2 separate regions of the Homo sapiens genome follow, and region 2 is linked to region 1. A link means that fine-mapping ties the variant in region 1 to the expression of a gene that starts in the linked region. Tissue or cell type: whole blood. Region 1 holds a variant in brackets; the other region holds the start of a gene. All regions are shown on one strand. Distances are from middle to middle. Region 1 overlaps PRR5 (proline rich 5). Region 2 holds the start of ARHGAP8 (Rho GTPase activating protein 8).

Region 1 (2,896 bases):
ACTGGTGGATGGACTCTCGGGGGCCCTGCTGGCCAGGACACCCCCGGGCATCCACAAGGGCGGTGACAGCCCCTCTGTGTTTACCTTCAGAACCAGCTGCTGACAAAAGGCATGGTGATCCTTCGGGACAAGATTCGCTTCTATGAGGGTGAGTGTGGGCCCCTTGGCGGCCACTCTGGGCCATGCTGGGTCCTGGCTGGCTGCTGGACTGCTGGGCCTCGTGCTGGGGGCCTCTGGGTGCAAGGTGTGGCTCTCTGGTCCGGAGGGCTTGGAAGGAACACGTATAGCCTTAGGGCAGCAGGGCCGAGATCCTTACCCAGAGGGAACCCTGGGAGAGGGTCTGCCCCCCGAACTTGCTGGAGCCCAGGAGGGCTATGAGACATCGGGGAAAAGCCCCCTGCTTCCCCTCCCTGCCCACGGGACTTTCTGGCCCTAGTGAGCTCTGTCCCCGCAGCCTGGGAGAGCCCCTGTCCTGGTCTTTGGGGGTCAGAGGAGAAGTCGGTTAGGGCTGAGGTCACCGATACTCACAGAGGAGGGGACAGGGTGGGGGACTCAGCTGAATTTTCTCTGTCGAGGCTCACAGCCACCCACTGGGACCTTCAGGTTATTGTTCCTGAGTGGGAGAGTACAGTGATGATAAGTGATTTGCCCAAGGCTACAGTGCACATCAGGGGTGGGGGCGGGACTCAAACCCAGGTCTGCCTGACTTTAGGGCACACACCCTTTGCCCTTCTCACGGCCCGGAGGTCCCCGCTGGCCTCACTGTGCAGGTTGGGCTTCCCGTGGCCGAGAGCCTCGGGCAGCAGCAGCAGCGTGCGCATCCTTGCAGGAGCGAGCTGCCCTGGGAGCGGGGTCAGGTGAGGGGGTCCACTCAGTTCCCACGGATGCTGCTTTGCTCGGGCTGTGCTGGGATCGGGCCTGCGCTGTACCCGTGTGTTGAGCACCTGTGCACTAGGCACCGGGTGTGTGCGTCCCTCCGTGCTGGACTGCCCCGAGTGTTTCACATCTACTAACTCATTTGATTTCCACAACCCTGTGAAGAAGCCACCGTTGTTAGCACTGAATGAATGGGGAAAGTGAGGCACGGTGTCCTGCCCAGGCCACACAGCTGCACCGTGGCAAGGCCAGGGTGCCAAGCAGGCCACCGGGTCCCGAACCCATACTCTTCACTCTGCTGCCCCAGGCTCCTCCTCCAGGTCTCCCTCTGACCCTGGGAAAAAGAGCTACTAGCCCACTCCACAGAGAAGGACACAGGCCCGGAGGCCTGGCATGTTCCAGGGGACCTTGGAGCTGCGTGTCATGGTCCTTCCTCACGTCCACTGAACATGTTGGGTGGGGCCAGCCAAGACAGGAACACAAAGAGAGGCCATGAAAACCATCAGACCGTCGGGGAGACATGGGGGTTCTGGGAAGGCTTCCTGGAGGAGGCAACATCTAGACTGGCAGGACAGAGCTGTGAGCATTTGGCACCTGACGAAGATGGCCACCCACGCCCCTCGCTTGATGCGGCACATTCTGGCGGTGCCTGTACCTCCCACCAGATCTGGCCTAGGGGAGCCGGGGCTCTCGGAGAAGGGAGTTTTGTGTGGCTTGAAAGGAGCTCTGCGTGG[G/C]ACAGCCAGGTCTGCCAGGCCTCCCAGCAGGGGTGCCTGCCCAGCAGAAGGGGCAGAGGACAGCCCTGGGAGGCCCAGCATCCTCTTCTGCCTCGCCAGCCCTTCCTGGCCTCCCCAGGTCTCAGGGACAGGCACTGGGCTCTACGCTGGGAGTCTGAGGCCCTGGCCTCCAGTTCCCATGTAGCTGCAGACACAGGGTTTCCTCTCCAGCCTCAGCACCCCTGTCTTAGCAATGTGGGGTTGAACAGGCTCTGTCCACTTGAGTGTTCTCTACATGTCAGGCCCAGGTGACCTCTGGGAGCCCAGAGATGGAGGAGAACCTGGCCCTGCCCTTCAGGGACTCACAGCCCAATTGGGGACACAGACACGGACCCGAGGGTGACAGTTGAGTGTGATTAATGTCATTGTGAAGGAGTGTCCTGGGGAAGAAAGGGTTCATTCCACCTTGGCAGTCAGAGAGGGCTGCATGGAGGCAGTGGCCCTTGAGTAGGGCCTCAAAGTGTGGTCTGTTCAGGGGAACTTGTGGTCCCTTTTGGCCCCATGCAGTGGGGACATAGCCACCTCCACATCCTGATGGGCGGCCTCAGGGGCCTCCCCCTTCCTGCTCCCTACCCCTGCTTGGGTTCCACTGGGAGCTCTTCACTTTGAGCCTGCTCCTTGCAGCTGTCCCTACAGAGCCTCTACCAGAGGTGGGTGATGGCCCCCTGTGGGGAAGCCCCAGGACCTTGCCCCCTGCCCCTTCTCAGCCTCCAGGGAGGCCTTGGACTTCAGCCCCTGGGCAGAGCCGGTCCTGGAAGCGGAGAGCCTGGAGGAGTGGCCTTGAGGTGGAGGGCTGCCTCCCTAGGAAGGGGAGGAAGACTGGACCGCGGCCGGGGTTGTAGTTTGATGGCCTGTGTGTGGCTTAAGGGAATCGGCTCCAGCTGCAGCCAAGCAACTCCTTGGAAGCCAGAAACTTGGGAACTCTGGGCGGGAGCTCCTGGTCCTCTGCTGGGCCCTGGGATCTGCCGTCGCTCATCCACCAGGGAATCCAAACCCGGTATGGGTCACGTGACCCAGCTGTGCTGCCTTACACGCTTGCCTCCATGCCTGTGCCTCGGCCGTCCCCGCGCCAGACACCCTTGACCTGGTCCACCCAGCGCGTGGCTTTTGTCACTGCCCTGCGCTCCTCACTGTTCCTGAGTCTCCCGACGGGCTGAAACAGGGTTGTTGGTTTGCAGGGCCTGCACAGGGCCCTCAGCACTCGGATAAAGAAAGGAAAGACGGACACCAGCCTGCGCCCACAGCGA
Region 2 (2,896 bases), 25 kb after region 1:
GAACCCAGGAGGTGGAGGTTGCAGTGAGCTGAGATCGCGCCATTGCACTCTCAGCCTGGGTAACAAAGCAAGACTCTAAAAACAAAAACAAAAAACAAACAAACAAACAAAAAACTATGGCCCCCCAAGCACTGCAGGGGGACCTGGACTGAAGTCCTATACTACTGTTTCTCTGGGCCTGATATATTTTGTTGTATCTAAGCTGCTTTCCTCAGATACAAATCCTTCAACAAACCCTAGGGAAAATTTCCTCTCAAGTCCCTCCAATTCTCCCAGTTCTGCCACGCTTTGTACACCCCTAACGAAAGGGGCCAGGTGCAGTAGCTCAGGCACGTAATCCCAACACTTTGAGAGGCTGAGGAGGGTGGATCACTTGAGCCCAGGAGTTCCAGACCAGCCTGGACAACATGGCAAGACTCCTGTCTCTACAAAAACTACAAAAATTAGCTGGGTATGGTGGTGCACACCTGCGGTCCCAGCTACTCGGGAAGCTGAGGCCGGAGGATCGCCTGAATCCAGGAGGTAGAGGCTGCAGTGAACCAAGTTCAAGACACTGCACTCCAGCCTGAACAGAGCGAGACCCCTGTCTCAAAAAAGTAAAATTAAAAATGGGGCCCGGCGCAGTGGCTCACGCCTGTAATTTCAACACTTTGGGAGGTGGAGGCGGGAGGATCGTTTGAGGTTGGGAGTTCGAGACCAGCCTGGCCAACATGGTGAAACCCGGTCTCCACTAAAAATACAAAACTTAGCCGGGCTTGGCGGCGCACGTCTGTAATCCCATCTACTATGAAGGCTGAGGTGGGAGGATCGCTTGAACTCGGGAGGTTGAAGCTGCAGTAAGCCGAGATCGCGCCACTGCACTCCAGCCTGGGCGACAGCGCGAGACTCCGTCTCAAAATAAATAAATAAATACATACATACATAAAGTAAAATAATGAATAAATAAAATAAGAAATGGGGAAATGGATCAGCAAGAAAGTGCCCGCCCCAGGCATGGGTGCCGTGCGGGACGGGGACGCGGCCCAGCCGGGAATCGGGGTGCCCAGGGTGCGATGTGCGAGGGGCTCCTGAGCGCGTGTGCTCCGCCCGACCCCGCCCTGTCCCCCCGACACACAGGTGGACCCAGGGTCAGCTCGTGCACCTGGGAAATGGCTCCCGCCGGGTAGCAGGGGCGGAGGGGCGGGGCTGGGCGGAGGGGCGGGGGGGCGGGGCCTGCCCGGGAGCCACGTCCGGGGAGGGGCCAGGTGAGCGGCAGACCCGGCACGCAGGTGGGGGCCGGCGGGGTCCGTGGCCAGGTAAGGCGGGCGGCGGCGGGAGGGAGCGCGCAGGGAGGAGGCCGTGCTCGGGGTGGGGGGGTGCGCCGCGGGGGCTCCCAGGGCGTGTACGGGGACAAGGGGCCGCTGGCCGGGTAGGGACGCCCAGGCGGGCGCGACGCCACGTGCGGCCGGGGGGAGACCCTCCGGCCGGCGCGCAGCCTCCGGGTCCCCTGTGGGTTCTAGACTCCCTCTCCCTTCACCTCCTTTCTTTCCCGCCCCCCCACACTCCCCTCCTCTGCTTTTTCCCCTGTCCTGTTCCTTCTCACCCCGCACCGCCTTCCCCGCCCTCGCCTCTCTCAGCCTGCGTTTTGGTCTGGTCTGGCCGGACGGTGTCAGCTCAAATGTTCCTTTTTTGCTTCCGTCCTGGGGTCTCAGGTTAGGTCGGGTCAGCGCCTGGGGGAGGCACCTCCCCCGCCCCCACACACCCCAAACCTACAAGGTGGGTGAGGTCATTCCCGTTTCATAGATGAGAAAACGGAGGCCGGGGCAGGTGCTGCGCTGATTCAAACTCAGGGGGTGGGGGGCTGGCCGGTTCAACACACAGCGGTGGAACCCCCCGGGAGTTAAAAGCAGAAACTTTTTTTTTTTTTTTTGACACCGAGTCTTGCTCTGTCCCCAGGCTGGATTGCAGTGTTGCATCTCTGCTCACTGCAACCTCCGCCTCCTGGGTTCAAGCGATTCTTGTGCCTCAGCCTCCCGAGTAGCTGGGATTACAGGGACTGACACCATGCCAGCTAATTTTTTGTATTTTTAGTACAGACAGGGTTTCACCATGTTGTCCAGGCTGGTCTCGACCACCTGACCTCAGGTGATCCGTCTTCCTGGGCCTCCCAAAGTGCTGGGATTACAGTCGTGAGACACCGCGCCCGGCCTAAAAGCCCAAAGTTTAAACCAATCCGCTAGCAGCCTCGGAGGTCGTCAGGAAGGCAGGGAGGCCCTGCCTTTCACTTTCCCTCAATCCTGTGGGGGGTGGGGGGGCTCCTGAGAATCCCTCGGGCTCTGCCACACCCTGACTTGGAAATTTCTCCGCTGCCTTGGGAGGAGTGTGAAGGCCCCGGAGAAGGAACCGCAGAGTCCACCCGGGAAGGAGGGTGGGATTGTTTGGCGGGATGGGGACAGCACCTTGGCCACCGACTTCAGGGTTTTGTGACAGAGGCTGTGTAGATTCCAGAGAGCTCTGTGCCGTCCCTCGCTTGCCTGTGAAATGCAGTGTTGGCATTTGTCCAGCTGAGAACTCAATGCTTAAGACTCAGCCGTTTCAGAAGTCGATGTCCTTTGGTTGGCCTCTCTGTTGGCAGCTTTAGGATCATGTTTGTGGACTCCTCATTCGATTCACTGACTAACCATTCCCCAAACCAACGCCAGAGTTGGGGGTAGGGCGAAGAGGGACATGGGATGTGGGCCTGAGCCCAGCTGATTCTTGTGGACAGCCAGCTGCCTGGTCCCTGCCCTCAGGGGCCCAGAGTCTGGCTTCTGTGTAGAGAGAATCCAAGGGTTTGTGGGAGCTTAGGAAGGGCTTCCTGGAGGAGGTGGCCATTGAGCTGGAAGGTGGATGGGAGGTGGATGGGGAAGAGAATGGC

What was found. PIP is the estimated chance that this variant, and not a neighbour inherited with it, causes the effect.
Region 2: it holds the start of ARHGAP8, and the variant in region 1 is fine-mapped to the expression of ARHGAP8 in whole blood (TOPMed, PIP 0.90).

The regions. Positions count from the first base shown.
Region 1 is chr22:44,726,487-44,729,382 of GRCh38, forward strand. PRR5 (proline rich 5) reads left to right here. Exons shown (of 8, transcript NM_181333.4): 4 at 91-148. It overlaps PRR5-ARHGAP8 (PRR5-ARHGAP8 readthrough), which reads left to right. Exons shown (of 15, transcript NM_181334.6): 4 at 91-148. Among named protein-coding and RNA genes, the nearest start is that of ARHGAP8, 25 kb to the right of the region's middle. The variant G/C (reference allele first, on the strand shown) is at 1,611.
Region 2 is chr22:44,751,333-44,754,228 of GRCh38, forward strand. It overlaps ARHGAP8 (Rho GTPase activating protein 8), which reads left to right and starts at 1,243. Exons shown (of 12, transcript NM_181335.3): 1 at 1,243-1,295. All of the region lies in intron 4 of PRR5-ARHGAP8 (PRR5-ARHGAP8 readthrough), which reads left to right.